2 separate regions of the Homo sapiens genome follow, and region 1 is linked to region 2. Evidence: fine-mapped expression QTL. Tissue or cell type: whole blood. Region 2 holds a variant in brackets; the other region holds the start of a gene. All regions are shown on one strand. Distances are between the middles of the regions.

The links. PIP is the estimated chance that this variant, and not a neighbour inherited with it, causes the effect.
Region 1: it holds the start of RCVRN, and the variant in region 2 is fine-mapped to the expression of RCVRN in whole blood (TOPMed, PIP above 0.99).

Annotation. Positions count from the first base shown.
Region 1 is chr17:9,901,199-9,909,300 of GRCh38, forward strand. RCVRN (recoverin) reads right to left here and starts at 4,073. Exons shown (of 3, transcript NM_002903.3): 1 at 3,602-4,073. The coding sequence starts at 3,982.
Region 2 is chr17:10,035,619-10,043,723 of GRCh38, forward strand. The region is part of intron 1 of GAS7 (growth arrest specific 7); the gene reads right to left. Among named protein-coding and RNA genes, the nearest start is that of RCVRN, 130 kb to the left of the region's middle. The variant G/A (reference allele first, on the strand shown) is at 3,060.

The DNA.
Region 1 (8,102 bases), 130 kb before region 2:
AAATGGATTAAAGACTTAAACATAAGACCTCAGACCGTCAAACTGCTGGAGGAAAACGTAGGGGAAAAGCTTCTTGGCACTGGTCTTGACGATAATTTTTTGGATATGACACCAAAAGCAAAGGCAACATAAACCAGAATAAACAAGCAGGATAGCATCACACTAAAGAGCTTCTCCATGTCAGAGGAAACAATGAACAAAATCAAAATGTAACTTATGGAATGGGAGAAAACATTCGCAAACCATTTGCGTTCTGCCTCCCCGGAGACACCTGTGAGCAGGTCAGGCAGGGGCAATAATGGCTGTGAAATTATCCTGGAGGGAAGGTCGACAGCTTTGAGAAGTTTCCCTTCAGCCCCCTGGTGCTGGATAAAGGAGTAAAGAGGCCAAAGCCACAGCCCAGGGCAGCAGCGTCGCTGGCAGCACTCAAAGCCCTGAGCTGGACGCCAGTGTAGGTGGCTCCTACACTCCTATCCATCTGTGCAGGGCCTTGGGCACCATGTGCAGGTGTGCCAGCTAGAAGCTGGCAGTGAGTGCCTGCCCACCCCACTTCCAACACGGAGGGACAGACCTCCAGAGCCTCAGGAAAGACTGCAAAAATAATCAAATCCTCACCCTGGGCCCAGGAAGGTTATATGGTTTTCCCACAGCAACACTGCTAGTTGGAGTCAGAGCTGGGACTAGAACCCTTCACTTTTAACTCCCTCAGTCAGTGCTCTGCCCATGAACTTGTAATCTGGTGAATAGCAGAGCCTTCTGCCACCTTGCACAGCCCCAGCCATTGATGGAGTCTCCCTCCCTCCCTTTCCTTTCTTCTTTCTTCCTTTCTCTCCTCCTTTCCTTCTCCTCCCTCCCTTCCTTCTCTCCTTCCCCTTGCTTCCCCCTCTTTCCTTCCTGACTCCTACCTTCCCTCTCTCCCTCCCTCATTTCCCCCTCCTCCCTTTCCTCCTCCTTTTATTCAATGAGTATCAATTTGTAGGCTTCTGCTGGGCCCTGCATTGTTTATGCCACTCTGAAGACTTAGTCCCTGTCCCAGGCCACCCAGAGACCCCACAGCCAATCCGAGGGAGCTTTCTCTGCAGGCTGTGCCAAGATAACAATGAGAGAGACACATGCCTGCCAGAATGGGAGGCCCGAGCTGAGCATTGAGGATAAGCCCATGGACCACAAGCTGCATGCTCTGCTGTTTTATTTATGATTTCTCCTAATAACTGTGGAAGATTTTTGTGCATTTGTCATCATGCAAATGAAAGCATGATTGCCAATGCACACAAAGTTATTAACATCTAAACAATAGTCTCTACTAACAGGAATGGAATTAGAAGAATAAGGTAAGTGGCAGGGGCAGGGGGACTGAAAAAGAATAAATTAAAAAAAAATCAAATGAAGGAAATTAGAACTGGTATAATAGGAAAGAAATGGAAACAACCTAATGTCCAAAAACATAGGAATGTTCAATAATTTCCACATTTCCATAAGCCAGAATTCCAAGCAGCTATTAAAAGAGTTTTGGAAGAGGTTGGGTGCGGAAGCTCACGCCTGTAATCCCAGCACTTTGGGAGGCCGAGGCGGGCAGATCACCTGAGGTCAGGAGTTCGAGACCAGCCTGGCCAACATGGTGAAACCCCGTCTCTACTAAAATACAAAAATTAGCTGGGCAGGTGCCTGTAATCCCAGCTACTCGTGAGGCTGAGGCAGGAGAATTGCTCAAACCCAGGAGGGGGAGGTTGCAGTGAGCTGAGATCACGCCACTGCACTCCAGCCTGGGCGACAAGAGCAAAACTCTGTCTGAAGAAAAAAAAAAAGTGTTTTGGAAGAATATGTAATGATATGGAAAGCACTCATGATAAAAGAGTAACTGAAAAATGTATGATAAAAAATCGTATGTGAATATGTCATAGCTTTAACATTATTTAAAATTATATAGGTAAAAGACTGAAAAGGTATATACTGATATACTAAGAAAAGTTTTCCCTGGATGTTGGAATTAGAGGCAATTGTTAGTCTCTTTTGCCTAGGTTTCTAAATTTCATGAGTTACTTTTATATCAGATAAACCATTTTCAAGACACCTACGAGGTTAGTGGAAAAGTAATTATGGTTTTTGCCATTACTTTCACAACAAAGGATCTGACAGGAGGACAGTATGGACAGGGGAGAAGGCGTGTTGGGAACCATATGGAAGCCTGTGCGCCTCACAGGGAAACTGTCAGGAGCCGGGGAGCCACGCCGCGCGTGGGAAGCGGGGGCTCATGCGTGGTGCCATGATCCGCCCCGCGCTGGGGAGAACATGAGGACTAGAACTCAGAGTTCATGCCCCCAACTTTGACCTCTTTCTACTTTATATTAGAAGCATATTGTGTGTTTAGAATGAACAGTGATTCAACTTGAATGTGTACTGCTGAAAATTTCAAAGGACATTTTAATAAAGGAAGGAAGAAACAAAGGATGGAGAGAAAGAAAAAATGTAAATATAGTCACGTGTCGCTCAGAGACAGGAATACATTCCGAGAAACACATCTTAAGGCAACTTCTATGTGGGAACATCATAGAGCATCCTTGCACGAACACAGATGGTAGAGCCGACTACATCCCTGAGCTCCATGGTCCAGCCTTTTGCTCCTAGGCTACAAACCTGTGCAGCACGTGACTGTCCTGAATGTTGCAGGCAGTTGTCACACGATGGTAAGTATTTGTGCATCTAAACATAGCTAAACATAGAAATCATGCAGTAAAAATACAGTATAAAGATAAAAAATGGGCCGGGCACAGTGGCTCATGCCTGTAAATCCCAGCACTTTGGGAGGCTGAGGCTGGCGGATCGCTGGAGGTCGGGAGTTTGAGACCAGCCTGACCAACATGGTGAAACCCCGTCTCTACTAAAAATACAAAAATTAGCTAGGCATAGTGGTGCACACCTGTAATCCCAGCTACTCGGGAGGCTGAGACAGGAGAATTGCTTGAACTCGGGAGGCAGAGGTTGCAGTGAGCCAAGATCGCACTATTGCACTCCAGCTCTGGGCTACAGAGTGAGACTCCATCTCAAAAAAATAAAAAATAAAAAACCAAGATACAAAATGGTAGACCTGTCTAGGGCACTCACCATGAGTGGAGCTTGCAGGACTGGGAGTTGCTCTGGGTGAGTCAGTGAGTGAGTAGTGAGTGAATGTGAAGAACTAGGACATTACCGTACACAACTACAGACTTTACGGATACACTTAGGCTACACTAAATGCATTTGAAAAATAAAGTAACTGTGCTATGACGTCACTAGGCAGTAGGAATTTTTCAGCTCCATTACAATCTTATGGGACCACAGTGGTCTATATCGTCCGTTGTTGACCCAAACATCGTGAAGCCAAGCATAACATGGCTGTATTAGGAAACACTCAGATTCTGCTCCGGGAAGACAACGAAGCTGTGGGCAAGTGCCCACCCCTCTATCAATATCAGCATCTCGGAGCACCACGCTCTCAGAGCCAGTGGCCCGCATCCCCCGCTCCACCCACAGATCCACTCCCTCTGCAGCAGCTGCAGCAGGGGACCCCCAGCCCGGAGCGACCCCGGCACCGCCCAGCCAGAAGGGGAGAGGGGAGACTGACCATGACGATCTCCAGCACTTCATTCTTGCTGATGGTCCCGTTACCGTCCACGTCGTAGAGGGAGAAGGCCCACTCCAGCTTCTGGTTGGTCTTGCCCGCGGTGGTCATGTGCAGGGCGATGACGTACTCCTTGAAGTCCAGGGTGCCGTCGAGGTTGGAATCGAAGCTGCGGAACACATGCTGGGCGTAGGCCTTGGGGTCGGTGTCGGGGAAGAACTTGGCGTAGATGCTCTGGAACTGCTGCTGGGTGATGCGGCCGGTGGGACAGTCCTTCAGGAAGGACTGGTACCAGGAGCACAGCTCCTCCTCCGAGAACTTGGTGTTCAGCTGCAGCTCCTCCAGGATCTCCTTGGACAGGGCCCCACTTTTGCTGTTCCCCATGAGTGAGGAAGAGTGGGCAGCGGCTGGGGAGTCGCTGGGTGGGTGGGACGTGCGTGGTCCCCTGGCCGCAGGCTGGGCTCAAGGCTGGTGTGAGCTGAAGACCGAGATGCTGGTGGCTTAGGAGGATTTGCGACCAGTTCTTCGCAATCCTTGAAGGGAGGAGGGGCCCAGGAGCTTTGTGGAGGGCGGGAGCGGTGGGGGGGGGTGCTCCCAGAACCCTAGTGAGATTAAAATAAAGAGCCCAGGGCAGGCAGGCAATTCATCTCGGCCTCCCGGGACGATACTAGAACAGGACAGGAGGTTGGAACCCTCAGAGCTGGGGCCTCCGGCACCCCCAGCCCCAGCCCTCTAACAGCAGCCATGTTCCCTGTTTCTCTTCCTCACTAACTCTGAGCATCTCGGGGCGGGGCTGGCATCTCATATCAAGCCCTAGAATGCAATGGTTAGGAGCACAGACTCTGGGGCCAGCATGGGTTCAAGTCCCAGCTTGGCTACTTAACTAGCTGTGTGGCCCCAGGCTTGTTTCTTCACCTCTTTCCACCTGGGACACTCTTCTAAACCTTCACTGCAGTCATGTCTCTGCTTAAATGTCACCTGCTCAGCCAGGCCTATACTGACCCTCTATCTATAATAGCACAACCCCCACCATCATCGGCACGCTGCATGTCCCCTCACCGGAATGAAAGCTCCGTGAAGGATGGGATTTTGTCTGTGTTGTTCCCGGATGCATTTCCATTGCCAGAACCTGATAGGCTTGGGCCCCCAGCAAGTCTTTCTTGAATAAATGGGCATCATAGCATCTACCACACTGTCATTGTGAGGCTGATGTGAGTCAATATGTCTGACACACTTAGAAACTGGCACATGGCTAATGCTAAACACTCGTTTTGTTATTGTCCATCAGTCACAGGGAGTGAAGGTGAACTGCCTGAAGGGACCAGCAGGGGGCAGCCAGGCCTGTGTCACCTCGGGAAGGGGCTGCCAGAGAACGTGGTCACATGGGATGGTGAGATTTTTGGGTTTTTTTAAATTATTCAAGAGAAATCCAAAAATCAGAATTTTTCTTGCAATTTCCACACTTTTCAACTTTGGCAATTAATTCAAAATTTTAATGGTGGCTCACGTCTGTAATCCCAGCACTTTGGGAGACTGAGTGGGGAGATTACAAGGTTAGGAGTTCGAGACCAGCCTGGCCAACATGGTGAAACCCTGTCTCTACTAAAAATACAAAAAATTAGCCGGGCATGGTGGCAGGTGACTGTAATCCCAGCTACTTGGGAGGCTGAGGCTGGAGAATCGCTTGAACCCGGGAGGCAGAGGTTGCAGTGAGCCGAGATTGCACCATTGCACTCCAGCCTGGGTGACAAGTGTGAGACTCCATCTCAAAAAAACAAAACAAAAACAAAAACAAAAACAAAACAAAACATGGTGTGGGCCAAACACAATCTATCTGTGGGTCCATGGCAGGCTGCAGGGTGTCCGTCTGCAGTGGACTTGGAGTGAGCAGGCAAGAAAACGTGTTTGCTGAGTGAATGGATAAATAACTGAGTGGTCAGAGACGGAGCTGTGCAAAGGCAGGCTTCGCGTCTGTGCAGCTCAGCGGGGAGTATCAAGCACGAGGAAGCAACCTAGTGAGGACGCTGCACACCTGGATTCTTGTCACCCAGAAGGAAGGGAGGGTGGGCGTGCACTTTCCTTAGCGGAGCGCAGTGCTCGAGGGGACACACTCAGAACCCCAGCCTTGCCACCGTGGATGGAGAGTTGTCTCTTTTTGCCCTGGGGTGAGAATGATGAAGAATAAACCCCACGGTCTCCAGGCAGGTAAACTGGTTTTTTTTTAGACGGAGTCTCCCTCTGTCACTTAGGCTGGGCACGATCTTGGCTCACTGCAACCTCCGCCTCCTGGTTTCAAGCAATTCTCCTGTCTCAGTCCCCTGAGAAGCTGGGACTACAGGTGTCTGCCACCACGCCCAGCTAATTTTTTTTTGGTATTTTTAGTAGAGTCGAGGTTTCACCATATTGGTCAGGCTGGTCTCGTAAACTCCTGACCTCAGGTGATCCGCCCGCCTTGCATCTCAAAGTGTAAAGTGGGGATTTTAGCCTACTTACTAACAGGCTAGTGGCAGCAGAAGGTAGGTCCCTGCTGCTGGGAGAAAGCCACCTGCCAGGCCCACCTCATGTCACTCTGGAAGGACCGAGAGGTTCAGGCACCAAGGGGCAGACTCATCCCTCCCAGCCGCTCTGCCCAGTACAGTTTCAGAGATTTCTCAGGAAACCTGCATATTGGGGTGTGTGTGTGAACTTTCTAATTTTTTTCCATCACTTTGTGAGTTTTTTTTTTTTTGTTTGTTTGTTTTTTTTGTTTTTTTTTTTTTAAGACAGAGCCTCATTCTGCGCCCAGGCTGGAGTGCAATGGCACGATCTCGGCTCACTGCAACCTCTGCCTCCCAGGTTCAAGCGATTTTCCTGCCTCAGCCTCCCAAGTAGCTGGGATTACAGGCGCTCACCACCATGCCCAGCTAATTTTTGTGTTTTTAGCAGAGATGGGATTTCACCTTGTTGGTCAGGCCGGTCTCGATCCCCTGACCTCATGATCTGCCTGCTTTGGCCTCCCCAAGTGCTGGGATTACAGGCATGAGCCACTGCGCCCAGTGAGAATATTACTTCTGAATAGGAGTCCTTCCTCTCCTAGGCTTTCACCATCCTGTAGCGTGCATTTATTCTCAAGAGCAGTTAGAAACAGGACAGTCACTAGCCTTGAAAACAAACGGGAGCCCAAGCCACACCCTGGAATCGCATTCATTCCAGAGCTTCCTTGCAGCCCTGGGGATGGAGGGAGAGTGAGGTCAGAGGCCTCGGCCCCTTGCTCTGAGCCACTAGTAGGGGGCGACTGGAAGTGCCTCCTGGATCGCACCCCTGTCCACATCAAGCCTGCAGCAGATGAGGCGAAGCCAGTGTTACAAGTGAGAAGTGGGGCCTCCTAAAGGCATGTCACCAGCCTGGGGTCACATGGTTGCTAAATGGCAATGCCAGAAGGAAGGAAAGTCCAGGTCTGCCAGCCTGTCCATTTAGGCTTCCTTTGTCTACGTCACAGGAGGCCTGAGCCTAGAGGACAAGTAGGTGAGGAGGTGGGGTTACCATGTCAATGAAAGAGGCCCTGGGCGAGGCAGAAGGCAGCCAGAGCCCTCCAGTCTTTGCTGTCCTCTCCAGGCACAAGGAGGAAGGAGCTGGACCCAGGTCGGAAGCAGCCTGGTACAGTCCACATTCTCCAGGTTGCTGTGCCCAGGAGGGGCCCCAGGGGACCGCAGGCAGCTGTGTTGATGCTGAGAGTGAGGGGTCATGACCTGGAGGTTTGTTTGAAAACCTGCATAAACATCTTCTATCAGAGGGAGAGCTTATGCTCCTTAGCCAAACAAGTTGTTGGAGATGATGTATTGTGAGTCGATTTGTTAAGTCTGAGCTGGGGCCATAAACTCTCCCAAAACCCAAAGACTGCTCTAGAGGAGAAGGCTTCATCTCCAGGCAGAGGATCCCAGTTTTGGTCTCGCTCTCCTCGCTGGACTGAAAGATGCTTCCCAGAAGCTGGCCCTGTCCCCTCAAGCAGGAGCTCCATCTTGGCCATTAGCTGGGACCCAGACGCCACCCCTTCCCCATTGCTCGACCTTGCCTGCTATGAGCTGAAGGCCAAGACGACCCTCCTGCCCTCTGGCCTGGAGCCAGCACCTGCAGAGAAGTCCGCATTGAGAGGGAAAAGGGGGTATGGAGAAGGTGGCGGGGGAGACAGAGAATGGGGAAGGACCCTCCTCCCACAGCTGTCCCCATTGCAGAAAATGACAATCCATCCTTTTGATGACTTGGATTGAGGTCCTTGGCATCATTCTCAGTGTTTCTCTTTCGGTCACAACCCACTCCAATCTATCAAGAAATCATCTTGACTCTACCTTCAAGGTACATCCAGAACCAGACCGTTCTTCCCGCCTCCCTTGCACCTGCCTTGTGCAGGCAGCATCACCGCTGCCTCCTAACAGCTCTTCCTGCTTCTGCTCTTGTCCCCTTACAGCCCCGCAGTGAGCCCCATGGCCATGAAATCAGGTCATGCACTATGGCTGCCCACTTCTCC
Region 2 (8,105 bases):
GCCTTTCCATGCAACCTGGACCTCTCACAGCTGTACAGAGCCTCAAGAGAGTGATCACCACTCTCTTGGAGGTCCTCCTTTGCAAAGAAAGAAGATGGATGCGTAACTTCTGGGGGTGGAAAGATTGGTGAAACAAGGCTGTTGTACTGCTAAGTATCAGAAGAGCTTCCATCATCACTGTTGCAGCCTCCACCACCAAGCTGGAAAGATGTCTCAGCCAAGCCTGGAAGCACAGTGCATTACTGGGCAGGTACTTCTGCTAGGGAGCCATGACCCCAGGAGCTCCCACTTACCTTCATAAAGTTTTATAGTCCTCAAATGGCTTTTGCCTTACAATGCCCCAGCTAGAACTGGGCCGTGGGGTAAAAGCCAGATAGGTGGGTAGAATCCAAGTTTCTTACTTGGAAAAAGTTACATGGAGGAAGCAAGGTTTGGACTCCATTAAAATCACATCACCACTCTGCTTCTCCATCACACAGCTCCAACTACGAAACTGCTCCCCAGGTAACTAGGGGAGCCAAGACTTCCTTTCTCTCCAAGACATCCTTCATAAATCTTTCTCCTCCTCCCATCCGCTTTTCCTGATCTCTCACACAATGACCCACGTCTTTTTTTTTTTTCCTCCCTGCTCATGCCTTGGATCTGTGAAAGGTGCCCCCTAGCACACAGGGTCCCCAGACCACCACAGCTCAGCAGTTAGACCCCAAATCTCAGTTTTCAGAGCTGCCTCTTTACCATGGCACAGTCATTTTAGAAACATGCAGAGAAAAGCAAACTGGAGCATACATCTGCAGGCAAGAAAAATCAATTCTTACCATCAGAGAACAGCTAACCTTCTCTGGGGGCTGCTACCTCAGAGGAGAGTCTTGGGTCCTGCCTGAAGCCCTCAGACTCAGCACCAAGACTCCGCCGGCTTCCTCTTCATGGCAGCCTCTCCGGGAAATGGGGCTGAGGCAAGTCGCTAGCCCAGGGCCAGTGTTCTGGGCACCCCAGCGGAGGTTCCTGTGGCTTTGCTCATTGCTGTTCTTTCACAAAGAACCCACTACATTGCATAGTTCCTTCCAAATCCGCTCCAGTGCTTGCTGGGAAATTAACAACTTGTTCTGGACTTTCCAGATGCAATGTTTCTGGAGGCCTTTCTTTTTTTCCCACTCTCCCTCTTTTTCCCCTTTCTCAGCTAAAAAACGTTGGCTGAGGTCACAACAAACAATGGCCAAGCTTGTGTCACTGAGCAGATGCCTCCCACCCCCAGGCCTGTGGACAAGGGCAGCTTTGTCCACTGTGTTTTAGGCGGGACTTCCTGGGCCTGCCCAAGCCCTGCTGGAGAATGTTTTGGCCAACTTCCTCCCAACCCTAAGTCACAGCTCTGGTCCTGGCCCCGGCCCCGGCCCCAGCTGTGTGAACCCAAGGCCAGATAAAAACCAACATAAAAAGAACGGAGAATGTTCCCCCAAAGAACCACTGTGTGGAAAGCTGGTGCCTCCAGAGGGGCGAGATGAAGGTCTCTTGCCTTCACTCTGCCCTCGCCACCATCAAACCTGGACAGATAACGAACAAAGACAGGCTCATGTGAGGTCTCCACTGAAAGGGGCCTGAGGATCACAAAGTCATTAGTTACAAGTGGAGAAAGGATTGGACCCCAAGAGCAATACTGCAGCCACCAACTAAATGAGCTTGGGCAGGGCTTGGATCCTTCATGAATATATCCTATCACTCCGTTTAGAAAGGTTTTTGGAGCAGCTGACTATTTAGCACTCAAAATGCCGCATATTTCTGTGTTTGCTTTCAGATGCAAACCTTTGGGGTTTTAGGAACTGATTCTTTATATAGAATTAAATATGGTTTTCTAGAGAAACCAAGATCCTGAGGACCGAGTGGTTCCCTATTAAGCAAATGGATAAACTTATTTATGAAGAGGTTTCAATGCCAGCTCCTTGGGTCGGGGGAAGAAAATAAGTACAATCGTCTAAGGATGGAGTCAGACCAGAGCTAAGCTGTTGTTTTACTACATACTAGCTCCAAGACCCTGGGCAACGGCTCCAGCTTCAATTTCTCCAAGTGTAAAATGCAGATGATCACAGTATCTTTCTCAAAAGATTGCTGTGAGAGATTAAAGGGGGTGGGGGTGGGGCATCCATGTAAACATTTCACCTAGTGGACGAAGTAAATGCTCAATGAAAGCTAGGATTTTTGTTGTTACTATCACCAGTGGCTGAAAGGTAGGCACTGCAGTTACCCCGGGTCCAAAAAGAGTCCAGACTGAACAATAAAAAGCAAACAGCCCAATTTAAAAAAATGAGCAAAAGATATTCCTCCAAAGAAGATATAAAAATGACCAATAAGCACATTTAAAGATGCTCAATATCACTAATCATGAGGGAAATGCAAATCAAAACTACAGTGAGATATTAGCTCACACCCATTAGGACAGGTTCTTAAAAAAAAAAAACCAGACAAGGCCAGGCACAATGGCTCATGCCTGTAATCCCAGCACTGTGGGAGGCCAAGACGGGTGGATCACTTGAGGCCAGGAGTTCAAGACCAACCCGGCCAACGTGGTGATACCCCGTCTCTACTAAAAATACAAAAATTAGCCAGTCGTGGTGGTGTATACCTGTAGTCCCAGCTACTTGGGAGGCTGAGGCAGGAGAATCCAGGAGGCGGAGGGTGCAGTGAGCTAGGATCACACCACTCTCACTCCAGCCTGGGCAACGGAGCAAGGCTCTGTCTCAAAACAAACAAATAAACAAATATCAACAAAACAGAAAAGAACAGGTACTAGTAAGGATTGAGAACTGTTGGAACCCTTGTGCCCTTCTGGTGGGAATGTAAAATAGTACAGCCCCTGTGGAAAATAGTGTGTTAATTCTTCAAAAAAATTAAACAAAGAATTGCCATATGGTCCAGCAATTCCATTAATAGGTATATACCAAAAAGAACTGAAAGCAGAGTCCTGAAGGGAGGGTCTTGCTGCCTGTTCATGGCAACATTATTCACAAGAGCCAGAAGGTGGAAACAATGCAAGTCGTAGTAAAATAAACACAATAGAATATTACTCA[G/A]CCTTAAGAAGGAAGGAATTTTTTTTTTTTTTTTTTTTTTGAGACGAAGTCTTGCTCTGTCACCCAAGCTGGAGTGCAGTGGCGCAATCTCGGCTCACTGCAAGCTCCGCCTCCTGGGTTCAAGCGATTCTCCTGCTTCAGCCTCCCAAGTAGCTGGGACTACAGGTGCGCACCACCATGCCTGGCTAATTGGAAGGAAATTTTGACATATGCAACCATGTGGATGGACCTTAAGGACATTATGCTCAGTGCAACAGCCAGACACAAAGGGACAAATACCATTTGCTTCACTTCTATGAGGCACCTAGAGAAGTCAAATTAATAGCGACAGGTTGCAGAATGGAGGTGACCAGGTGCTGTGGGCAGGGAATGATGGGAAGTTTGTGTTTAATGGGTCCAGAGTGTCACTGGTGCAAGATGGAAGCATTCTGGAGATTAATGGTGGTGATGATGGCTGCACAAACACGTGGGTATACTCAAAGCCACTGAACTATACATTTAAAACTGATGGAGATGGTGGATTTCATGTCATGCATATTTTGCCATGATTAAAAAAAAAAAGCCCCCAAGACCCACAGAGATAGTTTAGATCAAAAGACCCTGTGACCCATAAGCCGCTTCATGAGATACACCACCTCAGGCTCTCCATGTACACCCAGAGGGAAGCTGCCCCAGCCTCTTGGCAATGGTGAAGAGAAAGCCCACCTAGAAGATGAGGGTGGGACCAGGGACGGTGGCTCACGTCTGTAATCCCAACACTTTGGAAGGCTGAGGTAGGTGGATCATTTGAGGTCAGGAGTTCGAGACCAGCCTGGCCAACATGGCGAAAACCCATCTCTACTAAAAATACAAAAAATTGGCTAGGCATGGTGGCGGGCGCCTGTAATCCCAGCTACTCAGGAGGCTGAGGCAGGAGAATTACTTGAACCCGGGAGGCAGAGGTTGTAGTGAGCCAAGATCATGCCACTGCACTCCAACCTGGACGTCAGAGTGAGACCCTGTCTCAAAAATAAATAAATAAATAAAGACGACGAGGCTGGCCACCTATAGCAGGACTCACTCACCATGGCTCGTCTTGCGTTCAATCTTGGGGAGACCGAGGTGACACAGCCAGCATCCTAATGTCAATCGAGGGATTTTCCGTTTAGGGGTGTGGCACCCTCTGGGGCTCCCAGAGGGGGTGACAATGTGCCTTTCCCTTGGACATATCAATTCCTTCTGTGTCCGCATCCCACCTTCCTGGTCTTTTCTCTTACATGCCTGACAGCAGGGCCCATCTCTTCCTTCCTAAAGTTACTGACGTGGCTGCTGGGGGGACTCTTCCTCCCTCTCTAATTGCTGGGTTTCAATCTGCTGCAGGAGTGGCTGTGAGGATCTTGTACTGAGCACTCACTTTGGACCAGGCGCTGTTCTATGCTTCACATGTTTCATGTCACTTAATCCCTCTAACAAACCAAAAAGGAAAATTCTATGATCGCCCTCATTTAACAGAGGAAAACAGAGGCTCCTGCGAGAGATTGGGCAGGATGGGTCAGAAGAACAAGCCACAGGGGCAATATTCTAGGCCATGGGGCCAGCCTGAGCCAAGGTGAGAGAGAAACCGTGTGGGTAGAGGCTGTGGGGGAAAAGCAGGTGGATCCATTCATTAGAGTTTAAGAGGCATGGGAGGTGAGAAATATAGTAGTGAAGGATGGCATCAGATCATGGGAGGCCATGAGGACACCAAGAACTAAGAAATTTCGATTCTATAAAGGAGAAGAAACCATCAGTGGATTCTGAGCCAGGGAGAAGTCACAATCAGGGCTGTGCTTTGTAGAAATCATCATGATACCAGGGTATAAAAAGGTCAAATGTGAGGGAGAAACTAGAGGGAGGAAACCGGCTATAGAATCCCCCCCACCTTCTTTCTCTCTCCCCCCTCTCACCCATCATAAAAACAAGAGAAAGGCAATGCTCAAGCCTACACTTGCAAAATGGTCCCAAACCAGCCATGAAGAGGAGGCAAGAGCATCACATCCAGCGGTGGGGAGTCCCCCACCGGCAGCTGAGTTATTTGCATCTTCTCTCTGCAGTGTGGGAGGAGAGGCCGGGTGACGAATCCACACACTCGCTTTTGAGGTCAGACATGCTACAGAAATAGACAGGACCAAGATACTTTTCTGTTCTTGGAGATGGGCTCTCACCCATAAGAAGGTAAAAGCGGGCCGGGCACGGTGGCTCACACCTGTAATCCCAACACTTTGGGAGGCCGAGGCAGGTGGATGACCTGAGGTCAGGAGTTTGAGACTAGCATGGCCAACATGGCAAAACCCCACCTCTACTAAAAATACAAAAATTAGCCAGGCGTGGTGGTGTGCGCCTGTAATCCCAGCTACCAGGGAGGCTGAGACAGGAGAATTGCTTGAACTCAGGAGGCAGAGGTTGCAGTGAGCCAAGATCGTGCAGCTGCACTCCGGCCTGAGTGACAGAGCAAGACTGCCTAAAAAAAAAAAAAAAAAAGAAGAAGGTAAAAGCAAAACTTCATTTGAACCTAGATGGCCAAGACCTTCACCTTCAGTCCTTACAGGTTTGTGAAATTAAAATGGCCATGAAAGCTTTCATAGCCTGTGACTCCTCAGTTTTGTAACAGCAAAGAGGGGACAGTTTTGATGCTGTTAAACATTAACAGCCGTCTCCGACACCACTTTGACATTGCATCACACAGACGAACAGATACAATCACAGACAACAATGCATCACTCCAGGCAACACACAGAAATCACTGTCATTGCAAATCCCAGTAGGGCCCCCAGCCAAGGGCAAGGGACCTTTCCGGGCCATTACAAACCAGGAGGCTGATCTGCTGTGGCCTGACCTCAGCAGAACACACTAGTCCTGCAGACATTTAATTCTTTAGGATTCCCCAAAGTTAATCTCTCAGAGTATGGAAGACTCACGAATACATTCTAAGGGTTTACTGTTTGGGTTCATCCTAGCATCTCAATCCAGAAGTCACTTTGGTTTTCCTTTATTAACCATCCTTAGTGATTAGCGTTGGCCGTGAAAAACACGCTACTGGTCTCTCCTTGTGGCCTCTGCAAATAGATAGGTTGCTACATATGAAGCCACACACACGAACGGCAGACAGCAGAGAATCCGTGATCCCAAAGCAAAAAGACTGATGATATTTCCACCAACCTGAGTTTTCCTGAGTTCAACGGCATCAGATAAGACCAACCCTCTTATTATTTTTTTCGTTTCAGTCAAGTTGAAAACTGTCAACCAAAATAGGCCTTATTTGCTGTAGGCCCTTGTCCTCTGTAGGATGAATTGGGTTGTCTTAAAATGATAATTAATAGGCCGAGCACGGTGGCTCATGCCTGTAATCCTAGCACGTTGGGAAGCCAAGACGGGCAGATCATGAGGTCACGAGTTCAAAACCAGCCTGGCCAATATTGTGAAATCCTGTCTCTATTAAAAATACGAAAATTAGCTGGGCGTGGTGGCACGTGCCTGTAGTCCCAGCTACTTGGGAAGCTGAGGCAGTAGAATCACTTGAACCTGGGAGGCAGAGGTTGCAGTGAGCTGAGATAGTGCCACCGCACTCCGGCCTGGGTGACAGAGCGAGACTCCGTCAAAAAAAAAAAAAAAAAAAAAAAGATAATTAATAAGAAAACACATCTGGGTAGGGTGATGACTCACTTTTGTAACTGCTTCACAGTCATGAACGGAAAAATTATTCATCAGCCCAAGCAGTCTCTAGGGTACAGGGTCTCAGGGACGCCCCCTTCCTCCATACGTGGCCCCCTGTCTGCATGATCAATCAACCAACTAATAGTTACTAACTACCCTTTCCTGAATCCTGTGTGGGATGCAGGCAGGTATTGTATGTAGGACCTGACTCCTAAAATTCGGAAGCTAAGTCGCAAACATGGGCAAAAAAAAGGAATAAGTATCAAAGGAGTCTTCAACAGTGCCAAATGCTATGTGATAAGCTGGCAGACAATAAGAGCTTTCAGAATCCAGAGGAGGGCGAGGTCACTCTTGGCTGGGATGGTACAGGGAGGCTTCCCAAAAGATAAAGAACTTGCCTCACAGCAGGGATAAAAAACAAGGGCTTGACTGGAGCCCGAGGAACATGATGTACGAAGCAGAATAAGGTTTGATAAAGGACGGGACATAAGGAAATGAGAGACAGCGAAGTTGATTCGGAAGGAAATGACAGAAGTTCGAACCAGTAACTCGAAGAGATGTGGCTATGGTGACAGCCAGTTTAGGGGGATGCAGTAGAGTCTGTTGACCATGGATCCAAGTTCAAAGTGTTCGGTGGGGAGTAGGGGTGAGTCTGGCCCTTGGCACATGGAGCTGGAGCTGGAGGCATCTGCTCAGAGATGGTGGTGAGATCCTACAGGCTGACAAGGAGTTCACAGAGAAAGAAAGGACCTTGAGCTGAACCTTGGGGCATGCTCTTGCTTAAGCAGTGGGAGAAGAATTATTCTCCCCCAGCATGCCTCAGGCCCAATCCCTCCCTCTCCTGTGCCTTTCATTAGTGCATGCAACACCCCCAGGGCCCCTCTCCAAGACTTTCAAAGGCAAGAACCAGGTCTTCATCTTTTTCACCTCTAACCAGACTAGTGCTCAACACTCAGGGGCTACATGGGGAATGAACGATGTGAGTTCTGAGAATCAGGCAGAGAAACCAAATGAAGAGGGGGGATACAAGAAGAAATAAGTACAGCTGACCCTTGAACAACACGAGGGTTTAGAGGTGCTAACCCCCATCTCCCCATGTGGTTGAAAATCTGTACCTAACTTTTGACTCCCTCAAAAGTTAACTACTAACAACCTACTGCTGACTAGAAGCCTTAGCGATAACCTAAACAGTTGATAAACATGTATTCTGTATGTTATCCATATTACAGACTTTATTCCTAAAGTAAGCTAGAGAAAAATAAAATGTTAAGAAAATCATAAGGGGCCGGGCACAGTAGCTCACACCTATAATCCCAACACCTTGGGAGGCTGAAGTGGGAGGATGGCTTGAGCCCAGGAGTTCGAGACCAGCCT